Linked DNA regions of Homo sapiens. The protein of the gene in region 1 purifies or fractionates together with the protein of each later gene. This does not show direct contact. Each region holds a gene or a part of one and is shown in the gene's direction. Other genes may lie near its edges.

Region 1 (9,169 bases):
CTAAACCTGCCTATTAGACTACTCTTAAAATTTTTCAAAGGCTTAGAGATTATCTTGCATTTTAAAATGTTTATGCCTAACCTGTTGCCCTTCTCTTCAATTTGATAGCTAGTATTTCTTTGTCTCAAAGGGCCTCTAAACACTTCATTTGTTCATCCTTTAGACAGCTTTGTAAATAAAACCAAGCATTCCTCCTATGGTCCAGACAGCTTCTTAAGGACAGATAAAGTCAGCATTCCTAAGCACCAGGGTAGCCAAGGGAGTGTTGTAGGTTTATAGGGGTAAGATAATGTCTCTTTCTTCCACTTCCCACCACTTAGTTCAAACCCATAAGTTTAAATGAGATAAGGAGAACTGTCTCTTAGGAAGGGTTGGGAAAGAAAAAAAAGAAAGGCTGTGGTGGCCTGAAGACCACTTGAGTCATTTCTTCCATAATCACAATCTAATTTTCCAATAAATTGCAAGCATTCCTAGAACCACAGACTTCACTTAAGCCAAACTCTGTCAATTTCACACTGCCATGTATGGATGAGCATAAATGAGTTTCTCTTTTCAGGCCCCAATTGTATATACTTTACAGAACTTCATTGAGAAAGTTATTCGTTTCTTTCCTTTTCTCCTTTGTATCATAGCTCATTTAATTTCAATATAATAAAATCCATTAACCTTCTAGAAACTAAGGTTTTGAAAAGTTATTTTTCCCATGTTTAGTTATTGCAACAGATATTCATTATAGCTAAGGCAAGACAGTTAGTAGCATAACACCATGGTCCCTCAAAAAATAACAATAAACAAATCTACATATTTTTCATCCCAATATTTTTATCATTCCTTTAGGCATATGCAAAGATCATGTTCACTCCTGGCTGGATAATTCATTCTTTCTTTGTGAAATAGCTGTGGCAGAGGGAGCCATAAATAAAATAAAGCCTCCTAAACAAAGGTTTGCTTTAATCTGTTCATATTGACAATATCTAGTAAATTCTGATATTTCAAACAACTCACCATAACGGGTATAGATCTGGGTTTTTAAGAAATTGACATGATTTATCCAGACACATTTGTGGGTTTTCTTTGAAATAGTAGAGCTTTACTGACTATGACACTTTGCATTTTAAAGAAATTTCATTGCTTTCTCTTGTGTGTCATAGATAATTTTTATATAACTGAATTGTGATTCTCCAGTAGATAAATGGACAAGAAACATAAACATATAATTCTCAAAAGAGAAAACACAAAGCAAAAACGGCTAATTAACATATGTTCAGTGCATATATTCAGTCTCATTAGTGATGAAAGAAATACAAATTTAAGAAATATGTCATGGTGACTTACCTCCTTGTTGACACGAGCAAAGGTAAAAGCAACAGGAATACAGAAGACTGGCTAGAGAGCAGTTAGATGGGCCTGTCACCTACTGAGGAAGGTTGGAGACAGGTGGATTCCCTGGGTTCTGTAAGGCTGCAAGAACTGGAAACATGCTCAGGTTACCTTAGACAGCAGTATCTTGTGAAATAAATGCCTGAGGGAGGGAAAATGGGAAACATGTGATCAGTCCTCGTGGCACCTAGAATGTTCTTCAGGATCCACAATTCTAGAAGTTCAAGGGCAGCTGTGGTCACTCAACTTGCTTGAGTTGTTCCTACAGAATCTGGCATACATTGCTCGCTCCCATAGTGCTCTGTTGTATGGTAATACAGGACTCTCTCTGAAGACTGACTCCAACTGGCTAAATCAAAAAGGAAAGCATTGGTCCTCTTGAATGGAAGGTCTAAGGACAGGATTTGCTCAGGACAGCTGGAGCTGAGGGCTTTAGTGGAGGTATTCTCTGTCTCTGTCAGCCCTGCTGTCCTTTGAACTGGCTTCACTTTAAAGCAGGCTTTTTCCATGTGGTGGCCCCTGGTAGGTCACTTCACATCTCTAATCCTGTTTCCTCATTCTAGAAAAATGGAGCTACTAGCCACCTGCATAAGTACAATGTGAGGATCCCATGAGATAGACTATATGTAAATGCTTTCAAGCTGCCACATTTCAGAGGACTTTATTATTTGATATGAGCTCAGTGGCCTGTTTTGGAACAGTCTTTAACATGGCATCTGTACCGTCTTCCCTGTTTCTGATTATTAATAAGATGGTATTGCTTTTGTTAAGCAAGCCTGCTCTGCAACTTGGCACAGAGGGGGAAAAAAGTCATCCTCTTTATCAAGAATATCAAGAATGAGGGGCATTATTATTTTTTTTTAAATTGGCATTTAAAAAAATTAAGTTCTAAGGCCCTGGGAGCCTATGGAAGAGTCTCAAGGACCACAATGTGTGTGGAAGGGCCGGATAGCAGTGGGCAAGGCTGACTGGGTGGAGCTGCCCTGTTTAATAAGAGCAGGCCTGCTTTTGTCTGTTTTCTACACCATGATTCTGGATGAGATTTTACATCAAAAAGGAGAGTGGTAATATGATTAAAATAGGAGCAGCTTTGGCAGCAAAACAGAAGAAATGAGCCAAACGCTGACATTAATTGACTAAAAGCTAATGAAAGCAGAACTGAATCAATCAATTACAGCAAAATTGAACATCACTTGACAATATCTAGAATTCAATATTTTTTAAGTAGATCAGTAATAGCTCAAAGTGGTATGTATTTCATTGGCCTAGGCCTGAAATTCTCCTCATTCCTCTGGCTCACCTCTGGGACTAAGGACACTGAGAAGCCTCTGCAATGGATGGGCTCAACCGGCCAACCAGCCCTCCTACACTATATGGTATACAATATTAGTGTTTACCAACCCCTCCTTGTTCTGGCCAATGCAATGTGAGTAGAATTAGTGTGTGTTTTCTCTTTGACTCTGAGCAAGTTGCCGACCTGTCTCATTTTTCTCATCTATAAAGCATAATATCTACATTACAGGGTTGCTGAAGAGATCAAATTATAAACACACACATGCACACATAGCTAGCATTTAACAGTATCTAACAGTTGGTAGGGAATCAATAAACCTAGGTACCCTTTCTCTCTGTTCCCTTCCTTCTAACCATTTCTAAGCTCGGTAATGTGCTGTTTTGATCTCACAGGCTCTAGAACTAGGACTCCTTAAAGTCCTTACTCCAAGGTCTGTGTCCTCTACATCCCTGCTAGGGCTTTGAAACTAGAAGTGAATGCTGCCAAATCCTCTGACTTATCGCTCTTTGTAGTGCACTTCAACTCTAAAGACGAAATCACGGCCAGGGCGACAGGCTAAAGTCTGAGTCAGGGTGAGCTTTTGGGGAAACGGCGTGGAGCGGGTGGTGGTGTCAGCTCTCTCCTCGCCTACACTTCAGCTCCTTTCTGCCCACATCCATTCAGGGCATTGCCCTGTTTGTCTCCTCAGCTGTCTTCTGTATTAACCTCCAGCCTGTTGGGTGCATTCAGTTCTGCCAGCTGGACTTTCAATATGTATTTAAAAAGACACATAAACAAAAAACAAAAACAAAAACAAAAAAACTTTACTAGAAGCCAAAGGAAAACCATCATATTCAAAAATATAAATATAAAAGCAAAGAAATGCATACATTTACTGGACAAAGAGGTCTCATCTTGAGTAAACTGGGAGCACTCCGAGATGTCTGGAGGTCTTGGAGGCTACACGCTATCCATTGATACCTCCTGTCAAATTCTGAACATGCAGAAATTACCAGATCTCAAAGTCCTCATTTCTTGTTGAATTTTAGTGAAAAAAACTTCCCTGGATCCCACCGTAGTTGAGTCTTGGAACAGGGTGTTAATCTTTATATTATAAAATGTCCTTGACTAGAGATAATAGGCAGTATGAAACATTATATTTTTAAAAAGGAAACATAATATTGAAAAAAAAAGAGAAATACTGTTGCAGTGACTTGGAATCCCCAGTTCTCAAAGGGAAGAAGGCCAATAAAGAAGTGGGAGAAGAAAGTCTGAGAACCGCATGAAAAGGGTCCTGTTCCCACTAGGACCATGGTCCACTCACCAAATTATCAGAGACGTTTGAACCAGAGCAACTCCATCTTGAATAGGAGCTGGGTAAAATAAGGCTGAGACCTACTGGGCTACACTCCCAGGAGGTTAGACATTCTAAGTCACAGAATGAGATAGAAGGTAGGCACAAGACACAGGTCATAAAGACCTTGCTGATAAAACAGGTTGCAGTAAGGAAGCTGGCCAAAACCCACCAAAACCAGGATGGCAATGAGAGTGTCCTCTGGTCGTCACTGCTACGGTCTCACCAGCTCCATGACAGTTTACAAATGCCACTGCAACGTCGGGAAGCTACCCTATATGGTCTAAAAAGGGGAGGCATGAATAATTTCCCCCGCTTAGCATATAATCAAGAAATAACCCTAAAAATGGACAACCAACAGCCCTTGGGGGTGCTCTGCCTATGAGTAGCCATTCTTTTATTCCTTTAGTTTCTTAATTACTTGCTTTCACTTTACTCCATGGACTCCCCTCAAATTCTTTCTTGCGCAAAATCCAAGAACCCTCTCTTGGGGTCTGGATCGGGACCCATTTTCGGTAATAAACTTGTAGCATTTGGTGTTTTAATGTTTGTGTTTTCTTGACTTGTTACCTCATTTAGCCTCAACTGTTTAAAGATGGTCTTTTTGGCCATTTTATTCAGCTTTAATTGTTCTAAGGGGAGTGAAGAAATGGTCATTTACTTTGAAAAATCAGAGGGAACGTGTTGATGCGGGAAGCAGCTAATCCTTGGGGTACAGTGGCCCTTGGTAGTGCAGGAAAGTCCTGGGGGCCACCTCTAACCCACCTTCCTCCTCTACAGCATCTCCCACTGTAGTCATTCTCTACCGAAGCCCCAGAAGGTGCGGCACTTTGCCACGACAGAGTACTGGGTTCATGTTTCTTTCCGAGGCGGGCCAAGAGCTCTCAGCCCACTGGCAGTGGCGAGATGACGGACACCCAGCGAGTCCAATGGGCGTCGAACGCGTCTAGGCTTGGTGGACTTGTCAGCGCCTGCCTGGCTTCGGTCCCCAACTTGAGCACCGGCCCTTTCCTGCATGCCCCTAACCCTCGCAACGCTAAACAGTGAAAAAAAAAAAAAGACAAAAACAAAAAGCATCTCAACACACACACACACACACACACACACACACACACACACACACACACACACACACACACACACACACACACACACGGATCCGCGTTCAGAAAGGCGTGCACTTCCTACGCCTGATCCCCCGCATCGCAACCTCGCAGCTTCCCCGGCGTGCAGCGCTCATTTACCAATTCCCTTCCTGGGAGTTGCGGCTTCCCTCGCTCGGCCCCACTCCCGTTTACCCTTTCCCCAGCTCCCGCCTTAGCCAGGGGCTTCCCCGCCTGCCGCTAGGGCTCGGGCCGAAGCGCCGCTCAGCGCCAGCCTGCCGCTCCCCGGGCTCCACTTTCACTTTCGGTCCTGGGGGAGCTAGGCCGGCGGCAGTGGTGGTGGCGGCGGCGCAAGGGTGAGGGCGGCCCCAGAACCCCAGGTACAGCGCGCTCGAGCCGCGGGTAGGGGACTGCGGGCCGGGAGGAGAGCGCGGCACCCGCCCCTTCCCTGCGCCCGTCAAGTGGGGGGCTGAGGGCCTGGGGCACGGGAGGAGGGAGACGGGGCACGGGAGGAGGGAGACGGGGCGCGGGAGGAAGGCGACGGGGCGCGGGAGGAAGGCGACGGGGCGCGAGACAGGGCGCGGGAAGGGCGGGGGGAGTCGCTGGCTAGGCCCGAGTCCGCGGGGTGCCCGGCGGGTTGGCGGCGGGCCCACCCCTGCCGGTCCCTGTCCCTGTCCCTCCGGGCGCGTGGCCGGTGCGCCTGCTTCACGGGTCTCCCCGCTGTTCGGCCGGCGGGAGCCTCCCTCAGCGCTCCGCCTGGCGCCTGGATGCCTGCCAGTCCTGCAGGCCACCGACGCCCGCGCGAGGCCAAAAGGCGGGGTGGGGCGGGCAGCTGGCTCGGGCTGAGGAGGGCACCTGCCCATAGCTGCTAGAGAAACCCAGAGGCTTTGGGTTAAAGACTCTGGTGGGGTGGGATGCGCGGGCCGTGTGTGTTCTTAAGGTCACTTCCCTCCCTGCTTCTCCTGTTCTTCTGGTCAGCAATTCTCTCTCTCCCCTTCGCTCTGGCTCTGGCTGGGTTTTATTCAGATAAAGCACCTCTGTTGACGCAAATTAAAAGTTTCCTATCTGGGTGCCTCACTGGCCAGGTGGTCCTACAAAGTTAATTCCATGAGGGGAAGGGGGAGAGCACACACTTCCTCACGCTTTTGGATTTCTTTGTGTAGGCTAGGTTCAGAAAGAAATTATCTGTTTCCTATTAAACACCCAGAGGATTCGCTCTGAACTCAGGACGTGGTCAACAATTAACAAAACAACAAAACAAAACAAAACAAAACAAAAAACTTGAAAATTGGGCACAGTTGTCTCTTGCCTGAGGATTTTTAATTAGTATAAGTAGCACATTTTCAGGTGCGGCCTGAATAGAAACATTCTAGTACTTTTTTTTTTTTCAAATTAATCCAGCATTTTTATTATTTACCAACAGTGCTTGTTAATTTCATTGTTCAGGAAATTCTGGAAGAACCTCAATTACTTCTTGATGATCTATTTCATATACTATAGTGCCCCAATAAAAGGAAGGGAGGCAGAGGTTGCAGTGAGCCAAGATCGCACCACTGCACTCCAGCCTGGGAGACAGAGCGAGACTCCGTCTCAAAAAAAAAAAAAAAAAAAAAAAAGAGGGATCTTGGTGAAGCTGAAAAAGCAGGGAGTTTATACTCACACAGATGTGGATTGCATTCCAACAAGTTGTGTGAACTTAGCAAAGTTACATGAATGGTTCTTTGCTTCAGTTACCCCACCTTGAATGAGAATAATAGGCTATTAGAGAGAGTGAGCATGTGTAAAGTGCCTGGCACTTTGGAGGAGCTTAGTAAATATTAGTTCTTTTTCCTCCTTGGCTTCTATTCCTTTAAGTGTTAGTGGAGTGTAACTTCAAAGAGAATTGTACTTCTCTTGGGAAGAGCTGCTTATATTGAGTAGACTACTGTTTTTGAGAGCTTTCTTTTTTTTTAACTGCCTCCCTTTCAGAAAATTGTTAGTAAAACCAGACCCTAGGAGACCAGCCAGAACCATGAAATGCCATGTTTCAAACTGGAACACTTACTATTGGAAGCAAAGCCAAACAAGAGCTAATTTTTCAGGGGAAGAGCCAAACACACGAACATGATCACAGAATCTTGGATGTAGCCTACAGTTTGGGATTAATAAGAGAATTTATTAGTGAAGCCCTTTATTCACTACATGGAGTTTTTACCAAGCCCCACTCATGCACTGCATCCTCGTTGAGACATAACTGTTTCTCTTTGGACCCCTCATGGACCCAACCCTGCAAAGCCTCTGATCCAAGGTCCCGGTACCAACCCCTTCCGCAGCACATCAGCCTTTCTGTCAGCTCATAACGAGTTGGAATTTCTAGATCTTCTCTGGGGCTGTTGGAGAGGTCTCGGGGACTTTCAGAGTCCTTACATGCTTGAACCTGCCACCTTCACAGAGTCCTCTGGATCCCGTCTTGGGGCAGGGGCGATGCTCATTAAGCTGTTGCTGCCAGTAATTCCATATGGAAAGCAAAACACAAGTTCCATTTACTCTCTAGTTCCCCAACTTCAAGGGCAAAAAAATGTTCTCCCTGTTCACACTTCCTGTCTCACCTGGGTGGTGCCTTTTGAACTGGGATTATGAGATTTCCAAGACTCTCTCTAATGTGTAGGTATCCTTTCTGTTTAGCCTCCAGATTGCTCCAGAGGTGAGGAGAAGGGAATTCCCTTGAGCTGTGCATTTGGGAAGGGAGCAAGGAAGTCAGGGGTTAGGGAAGGCACTTCAGCCATTGCCTTGAATTAGTATCCTATCACATAGAGTTGAAGGGGGAAAGCCAGGATTTGGCAAGGATGAGCTTTTCAACCTTGGCTTCTCAGTAAAATCTCTGGACAGTTTTTTTTTTTTTTAAAAAAAAAAACCAAAAACCAGAAATTAAACAATCCGTAAAACCATACCCCGATCTTATCACCATAGGTTCCAGTTTAATTGTTGTCAATAAGGACCCAGGCATCGAAAATTTTAAAAGCTTCCCAGGTTACATTAATATGCAGCCAGAGTTAGGAAACTTGACATCTCAGAGAGGGAGAATTCCATGTACTGTGAACACTTTGAGGGATCCACATTGTAAGCTTGCTACTTTTCCCAACTGGAACACGAGGAGTTTGGGCCAATCACTTGCATTCACCTGGTATGGGCCCCTCTTGGCAAACACCCATTAGAAAGGTGCGTTTGTATAAAAGAAATAAAAACTTATGTTTGATGCTTGGGGCATGGTTTGCCAACTTCCTTAAAATTCACATTGCCTTTTTTTTTTTTTTTTAAAGACAGAGTCTTGCTCTGTTGCCAGGCTGGAGTGCAGTGGTGCAATCTCAGCTCACTGCAACTCTGCCTCCCAGGTTCAAGCGATTCTCCTGCCTCAGCCTCCCAAGTAATTAGGACTACAGGTGCGCACCACCACACCCAGCTAATTTTTGTATTTTTAGTAGAGACGGGATTTCGCCATGTTGGCCAGGATGGTCTCAATCTGTTGACCTTGTGATCTGCCCACCTCATCCTCCCAAAGTGCTGGGATTACAGGCGTGAGCCACCATGCCTGGCCTGAAATTCACATTGCTTTTATGTCTTTAAAATCAATCCAGGTGATTGATACGTTTGCCACAAACTACTGGGAAAATTAAGCTCTTTAAGCTCTTCCTGGCTAAATAAATAGGTAATTAACTTTTGGCATGACAATTTGAGGAAGACACTGATGTTATTAAAGGTTACCATTACATATACTTACAGGGGAAGTGGAGACCTCGTTCTAGTGGTGGCTGCCACTGTGTCAGCATTTGATTTCCAGGGTACTAGGGTGACTTTCTCCAAGGTCCAGTGTCAGTGGGGAGTGGTGCTTGATCAGATGTTCCTCTGATATGGTTCTGGTTTTGCTTCTTTCATGAGCCTGGTTTCCCAAATGTCCTGCAACTCTGTGACCCGTGTAGTGAGCCACTCAGGATCCCCTAATGATTCCTTTTCTGCCTATATCAGCCAGAGCTTGTTCGGTTGCTTTCAACCAAGAACCCTGACAGGTAGAGTTAATTTAAA
Region 2 (8,268 bases), on another chromosome or scaffold:
AAGTACTGTGTTTACTGTAGAACTTTTGAAATATTCTTCATTTGGTTAAAGATGTTCCTTTCTATTCCTAGTTTAATGAGAATAGTTTCCTTTTTTAAAAAAAATGTTAAGAATGAATACTTAGCTTTATCAAATAGTTTAATTGTACTGATTTAAATGATCATATGGGCTTTCTCATTTAATAAGTTAATGTCATACATTAAATTAACTGATCTTCTAACATTAAATCATTGTTGAACTTCTGGGATACCACTACTTGGTTTTGACACACACACGCATATTCTCTCTGTCTGTCTGTCTCTCTCTCTCTTTCTCTTCCTCTCCTCCCTCCCTCCCTCTCCCTCTCTCCCTGTCCCTCTCCCCCTCACTCATACATGTGTATCCTCCTGTCTTTTTAGGCCCATGACTTTCTAATGGATTATAGTCTCAAGGCACAGTTACCAGTGTTCATTTTCAACCTTCTTTCTTTGAAAAGGCTGGAAGAGAAGCTTTATTCCACCCTACTTCAGCTTCTTCATGCATCCAGCCTGGCTCTGGTCCCTCTTCTTTTTCTTTGAAACCTACTAGCTTCAATGATCCCATGTACTACCGTAGTACATTGGTAGTGTACTTCCAACTACCATAGATCCCATAGGGACAGCACTTCCAACTACCATAGCCTGCTTCTGGCCCAAGAGCCCAACATGATCATGGAGTCGGCCTCGTGCACTGTTTTGAGTTTCTGTTTTGATTCTTGGAAATGTCTGTCTTGTTTTTGAGCTTATATCCTTTTTTGTTTTTTTCTTTTTCTTTTTTTTTTTCTTTTTTTTTTTGAGATAGAGTCTCACTCTGTCACCCAGGCTGGAGTGCAGTGGTGTGATCTTGACTCATTGCAACCTCTGACTCCTGGGTTCAAGTGATTCTGCTGCCTCAGCCTCCCAAGTAGCTGGGATTGCTGGCCTGCACCATCACACCTAGCTAATTTTTGTATTTTTAGTACATTGTGTTTTTACAACCTACTAAATTATTATTTATCTGCTAAATTATTAAATCTACTAGATTTTTATTTAGTAGATTGTATTTTTAGTTTCACCATGTTGGCCAGGCTGGTCTTGAACTCCTGACTTCAAGTAATCTGCCCGCCTTGGCCTCGCAATGTGCTGGGATTACAGGTGTGAGCCGCCGCACCTGGCCTTGTTTTTTCATTTTAAAAATACCCGTCTTTTTTTGGAATGGAGAAGATACATCATCACTAATACAGTTTTATCATTTTTCTTCCCTTCATCGAAACCTTTAATGGATGGCTCCCCATTGCCTATAAAATGACTACATTTTGCAGCAAGGTTTATAAAACTCTTTACAACTGGTCCCAGTTTACCTTTTGCTGCCTTATGTCAAAACACCACTACTATATGGTATTATATGCAGTCTCAGACTATATTTGTTCTTTAAATATACCACACATTTTCACAGCTGTTTTGTTCATGTTATTTCCTCTACCTAGAAGGCTTTTTACTTTGTTCTGGAAAATACATACTTATCCTTCTAGTCTGGCTGAGAGGGATAGTTCTCTACTTATCCTTCTAGTCTGGCTGAGAGGGATAGTTCTCTATGTAGCTTGTCAACTCCCTCTCCCCTGCAAGGTGGTTACCCATTTGATGGCAGAAAACATCTTACTCATGTTTCTGTCTGCTGTGTTTTCCATAGGCCTGTCAAATAATAAGTGCTTAGTAAATGTATATTTTAGCATAGAGCAGGGGCTAGCAAATTTTTTTCTTAAAGAGTCAGGTAGTAAATTTTTTCTCTATTATAACTACCCAACTCTGCGAGGTGGTGCAGAGGCAGCTGTAGACAATATGTAAATGAGTGGATGTGGCTGTGTTCCAATAAAACTTTATTAACAGAAAAAGCTGGTGGCCAGATTTGGCCCATGTGCTATATTTTGCTGACCAAGGCATAGAGTAAGCAAAGAATATGATCCAAGTATTTACTAATTATTTTGTTTACTCTTTTATTGAATTAGGAAGGTATAGATTTAATAATAGTTCTGCTCTGAAATTTTTATAATTGCTCTTATGGAATGCTCTTTTTTTCATGTAAGTATTGGATGTAGTTTACTTTAAATAATGGTATATCAGAAGCTAGTAGGGAATTGTTGAATGAACAGTTATTAGTCTGTCTCTAGGGATGATCACCACTCAAGTCAGATTTTTATTTATTAATTATGCCTAGAATTTATCCAAATTATTTTATCAATACAATAATAAAATAGTCCATCTTGAAATAGTTTTTAAAATTACAGATAATCTTAAAATTAGTCAATGTTTGCTTTACTAAGGCAAATATGTCTTTCAGATATATGTTATTACTGTTACTTTATCTGTCTCATTAAACACTTTGTTATTAACAAATTCTTTGAAAAATGTTAACTAGCAGGTTTTGGGGAAGTTCAATTCTATGTTTATTGGATGGAGCTTTGCCTTGAAGCATCTGAACTTTTGAGTTATTTTTATTTTGGAGTGAGCATCTAGGGTACCTGATTGTGAAGCTAGATTTCAATCTTGTATGAGGGATGGTATATTTTTTTGTGTGAGTTAATTTAAATTTTTAAGTTTTTTTCCAATGCCTTCATTCCGAAAATGATACATGAATGTAGCAATAAAAGAAAATTGGAGTCCATGAAAAAATAGTAAAGCAATAGGAAAATACAGGTGAGGAAAGATAGAAAACAAAGAAGATGGCAATATGTAAAAAGGAAGTCCTGTAAGGCATATTTTACTGATGTGTTGTAAGGAAAAGTATATATGAAGTATGTTTAGAATTTAGAGTATGTGTAGAGTTGTTCCAGATGGGCAGCCAGAGAAGGCTGTGTGGAGGAAATATTCAATCTAGTCTTTTTTAAGATGTGAGTATGGAAACAAAAGAGCCTTCCCACTTCAGACTATGGTGGAGGCATGGAAACCTGTGCAGGACACAGCATGAACTATGAGGACACTTAATGACTTTCCAAGTGCTGTACAAATATAATGTAATATTGACCAGGATTGAAGTGCCTAAAAGTAAATGACCCAATGAAATTCTTACTAAGTTCATTAAACAAATATTAGGCAATATTTTTGTTTAATTTCTGCATCCTGTAAATTAATTCTGAGGACTCTGTTTTGGCAGTGACTGTTGAAGTGAAGGGTCCCTATGAATACCTCACACTTGAAGACTATCCCTTGATGATTGTAAGTGACTTTATATTATTTAACCTCAGTATTGGATGGTTTTGGGTTCAAAGATTGTCCCATGTTTTGTGGCAGTATTCTTTTTAATGAATTGTTCCTGTGCAATTCAGAAAATGTTGCTTGTAGTCCTGGATTTATTTCTTATTAGACTGGGACTTTGAGAGAGTCAGTATACCCTTGTGTGCCTCATTTTCTTATCCATATAATGAAGGGGTCAGTGACCTGTGGAAATACCTCAAAGATCATCTCACATTCTCTCTAGGATGCATAGTGGGGCACTTTTTACTACAACTCTATTGTTTCTGATCCCACTTACATTAACTAAATGAGGCTGGGTGCCCTGGCTCATGCCTGTAATCCCAACATTTTGGGAAGCTGAGGCGGGCAGATCACTTGAGGTCAGGAGTTTGAGACCAGCCTGGCCAACATGGTGAAACCCCATCTCTACTAAAAATACAAAAATTAGCTGGGCGTGGTGGTAGGCGCCTGTAGTCCCAGCTACTCGGGAGGCTAAAGCAGAATTGCTTGAACCCAGGAGACAGAGGCTTCTGTGAGCTGAGATCTTGCCACTGCACTCCAGCCTGGGCGACAGAGTGAAACTGTCTCAACAACAAAAAATTAACAAAATGATGAAGCTCCCTTCTCTTCATTTTGTGTGTGTATGTGTGTATGTGTGCACATACATGTATGTGTGCATACGTCTGTGTCTCAGAATATCCTTAATATATTTTCAATTTTCTTTGTTCATGATTATTCTCTTCTTCCTTTCCCTTTAATAGTTTTCCCGTTTTGTTGTGTTTCCTTGCCTCTAGATGTATCCTAATCATCATGCCATTTTTCTTCTTCAGTGTTGTCTTCATCTATATAATTTTAGATCGTGAGCTGAAATAGCTCCTTCTTTAAAAAAAAAAAAAAAAAAAGAGAGTCTCACTCTGTCTCCCAGGCTGGAGTGCAGTGGCATGATAATGGATAATGGCTCACTGCAGCCTTAAACTCCAGGCTGAAGCTACCCTCCACCTCAGCCTCCCAAGCAGCTAGGACAACAGGCGTGTGCCACTATGCCTGGCTAATTTTTATTTTATTTTATTATTTTTTATCTTGAAACGTAGTCTCACTCTGTCACCCAGACTGGAGTGGAATGGCACGATCTTGGCTCAATGCAACCTCCAGCTCCTGGGTTCAAGCGATTCTCCTGCCTCAGCCTCCTGAGTAGCTGGGACTACAGGTGCGCACCACCATGCCTGGCTAATTTTTGTATTTTTAGTAGAGACGGGGTTTCACCATGTTTTGGCCAGGCTGGTCTTGAACTCCTGACCTCAAGTAATCTGCCCATCTCTGCCTCCCAAATTGCTGGTATTACAGGCATGAGCCACCATGCCTGGCCTAATTTTTATTTTTTGTAGGGACAGAGTCTTGCTATGTTGCCTAGACTGGCCTTGAACTCATGACCTCAAGCAGTCCTCCTGCCTCGGCTTCCCAAAGCACTATTGCAGGTGTGAATTACCACGCCTGACCAGAAAAAGCTCTTTTACTATAGGAGAGCAGGCTGAGTGCTCTCTATATATACCATATATGTGTCTGTGTGTATAATAGAGAGCACCTTTTATATGGTATACATATGTGATACATACATACACACACACACACACACACACACACACACATATATATATATACATATGAGAGCATTCGCTCTTGAGGACAAGTTCATATGTAGTCTTCTCTGCTCAAGACAAGATAATGCTTTCATATTAGTTAATGTTAAGCTCCAAAGGAAGAATTATTTCTTAACTAGAAGGTAGAATATATTTTTGTAACTTGTTAAGACTGTATATTGATTCAGGACAGGCGCTGTGGCTTATGCCTGTAATCCCAACACTTTGGGAGGCAGAGATGGGAGGATTGCTTGAGTCCAGAAGTTCAAGACCATCCTAGGCAACATAGCAAATCCCCATCTCTTAAAAAAAAAAAAAAAGTATATATTGATTCTAAATCTACAGACTTGGCTCTTGGCCCTAATTCTCCTTTTTATCTTTTACCCAATTTGATAACAGTTTTTCATGGTGATGTGTATTGTATATGTCCTGTTTGGTGTTCTGTGGCTGGCATGGTCTGCCTGCTACTGGAGAGATCTCCTGAGAATTCAGTTTTGGATTGGTGCTGTCATCTTCCTGGGAATGCTTGAGAAAGCTGTCTTCTATGCGGAATTTCAGAATATCCGATACAAAGGAGAATCTGGTAAGTAACCAGAAAATCTTTGCCAGTTCGAGTGGTTGGAAGGTGAGATGTATGAAAATATTCCTAAGGTCAGCAGTCACTACATAGGCTTAACTTTTCAATTACTTAATTATTACAATATCTTAAGCAGAATCACTATGACTCTGACTTTTGTTTTTAATCTTATGAGTTCAGTGATGTAAGACTAATTTTACTGAAATATGCTCACAAAAGTCACAACAGTAGTGACCATTTTGGGAATGATTATTAACATCAAATCTCAATTTCTGTTGATTTCTAAGGCACCATTATACATCTAAGAAAAAAAGTAAAGCTGTCAATTTAATTGTAAAATGTCACTGATTGTAAGACACACCTTGATTTAAAAAACCTCAAAATGTGGTGGGAAAGTGCATCTAACTGATAAAATATAGTCATATCAAGAAAATAGGAGAGTGCTTATGGTTTAGTAAGGTGAACTGGTAATGACAGAAGTTGTTTTATACTGTAGTTTTTTGTGATTGCTTCAGTTTTTTCTTGTCAGACCATTTAATTTAGTCATAATTATTATTGTGAGATAAACTGATAAGATTTTCCCTGGTCTTTGAAAGGTCTTGAAAATAGTAGATCTGAAAAAAGTTAAGCTGTACATGCCAACAAGCGTGTACACGAGTGTGTTTTGTGCTTTTCTATGTGTAGCTGTATTTCACAGTTTTTAAAAATGGGGGAAATTGTCTCGATGCTACAAACTGTCCATATAGGGTGAGGTATTCTGTTAAAGTTTTAGTGAATTTGGGGCCAGGTCGGGGAGGGAGCTGAGTTGAGCGCACCCAGATTGCCATACATAGACATGAGTAAGATTGTGAGTGGCATCAGCTTGTATCCTGTAAAAACTGTGGAAGAGGTATTCTATTTTAGCAGGACTAATATCAATGCTTATTCTGAAGAGTGTAGAAAGCAGCAGTCTAGTATTGGCATCTGGCCTGTTGCCAAACCTAGATTATGGTGCCATTTCTTCCCTTCTTTTTCATAGTCCAGGGTGCTTTGATCCTTGCAGAGCTGCTTTCAGCAGTGAAACGCTCACTGGCTCGAACCCTGGTCATCATAGTCAGTCTGGGATATGGCATCGTCAAGTAAGTATTAACTTCCTGTATGGAAGAGCAAATTAAAATGCTGATTAAATTAAAACAGTATTGCATGTTCCCAATGTAGTAGTTCTGAAATAGTTGATAAAAGAAATAATTCTGAAACAAGAAAGGTATTTGAAATTTTGTAGCATTGTAAATGTTGGGAAAATGTGTTTCATTTTCCATACTTCCAAATATATTCCATACTTCCAAATATATTCCATACTTCCAAGTCCAAATGTATTCCATACTTCCAAATCCAAATGTATTCCATACTTCCGAATATATTTCCATACTTCCAAAATATTTTTTGCAAATTAGATTTTTTATGGGAAACGCATTCTTGCTGTAACTGTCTGAAAATATTTTTCTATCCAAAAAATTTTATTTTTATTGAGGAGTGTCTTCTATAGGCATTCTTTGAGGCATTGTTCTAGGCCCTGGGGATATGGCAAGTAAACAGAAGATTTTGAGCTTACATTTGTGGAGGGAGGGGACAAAGACAAAATTTAAGTGGGTAAAATATTTTAATATGTCAGTGGAAAGTGCAGTGGAGCAGGTAATGCAGGAGCTAGAGCTTGCAGTTGTACATAGGGTGATCAAGGAGGGCTTCACTTAATGACATTTAAGCAGAGACTTCAAGGAGGTGAGGGAGCTATATGTATACCCAAGGGAAGAGATGCTGAATTGAGATCAGATTCTATATATATTTTGAAGGTGGAACCAGTGGAATTTGCTGATGGATCAGATGTATGATAGGAAAGAGAAGAGGAATTAAGGATGATGCCAATTGTTTTGATCTGATAAAATGGCAGGATGGAATTGAAGATTTACTGAGTTCAGGAAGACCTTAGGTGAAATAAGTGTGGAGCAGGGGCAAGATTGGAGTTGAATTAGATAACTAAGTAGGGGAAACAAAGGGGAGAGGTTGGGGCAGAGATAAAAGTTTGGGAGTCATGAAGATAAAGATATTATTTAAAGTCATGAAGGCCAGGCGTGGTGGCTTACGCCATAATCCTCACACTTTGGGAGGCCAAGGCGGGCAGATTGCCTGAGGTCAGGAGTTCAAGACCAGCCTGGACAACACAGTGAAACCCTGTGTCTGCTAAAATACAAAAAATTAGCCGGCTGTGGTGGCATGCACCTGTAGTCCCAGCTACTTGGAAGGCTGAGGCAAGAGAATCGCTTGAACCCTGGAGGCGGAGATTGCAGTGAGCCAAGATCATGCCACTGCACTCTAGCCTGGGTAACAGAACGAGACTCCATCTCCAAAGTTAAATAAATAAATAAATAAAGTCATGAGACTGGATTTGGTCACCAAGGAAGTGAGTATATATAGAGAAGAGGTCCAAGGGCTGGGCCCTTGAATATTTAATATTATTTAGAAGTCTGTAAGATGAAGTAGTTAGCAGAAGAAATTGAGGAGAGACCAGTGAGGTGGGTAGAAAACTGAAGAATGTGTTTCAAGGAGGAAGTGATTGTGTCAAGAGATCCTGATAGGTCAAGTGAGAATTGGCCATTGAGTTTACCTATATGGAGGGTCATAGTGATAGTTTTGGTGAAGAGATAGGGACAAAAGCCTAATTGGGGAGAGTTCCAGAGAGTATAGGAGGAGAGGAATTAGAATAATTGTATAGACAATTATTTAAAGGAATTTTGCTTTAAGTGGGATTAAGTAATGCTATAGCATCACTTTATAGTGCTTTAAGTAGGAT

Evidence for each region.
Region 2: the proteins of ERAP1 (region 1) and TMEM87A purify together in Homo sapiens (affinity purification with mass spectrometry; 2 studies listed by BioGRID and IntAct, with this or other methods). This does not show direct contact.

The regions. Positions count from the first base shown.
Region 1 is NC_000005.10:96,804,181-96,813,349, reverse strand, and holds the start of ERAP1 (endoplasmic reticulum aminopeptidase 1 isoform b precursor), read left to right. Parts: upstream 1-5,404; 5' UTR 5,405-5,490; exon of another isoform or gene 5,491-5,892; intron 5,893-9,169. UniProt on the Homo sapiens protein: Aminopeptidase that plays a central role in peptide trimming, a step required for the generation of most HLA class I-binding peptides.
Region 2 is NC_000015.10:42,234,611-42,242,878, reverse strand, and holds part of TMEM87A (transmembrane protein 87A isoform 1 precursor), read left to right. Parts: intron 1-3,147; coding exon 3,148-3,209; intron 3,210-5,263; coding exon 5,264-5,447; intron 5,448-6,459; coding exon 6,460-6,559; intron 6,560-8,268. UniProt on the Homo sapiens protein: Potential monoatomic ion channel gated by mechanical force, implicated in normal touch sensitivity through the generation of mechanically activated currents.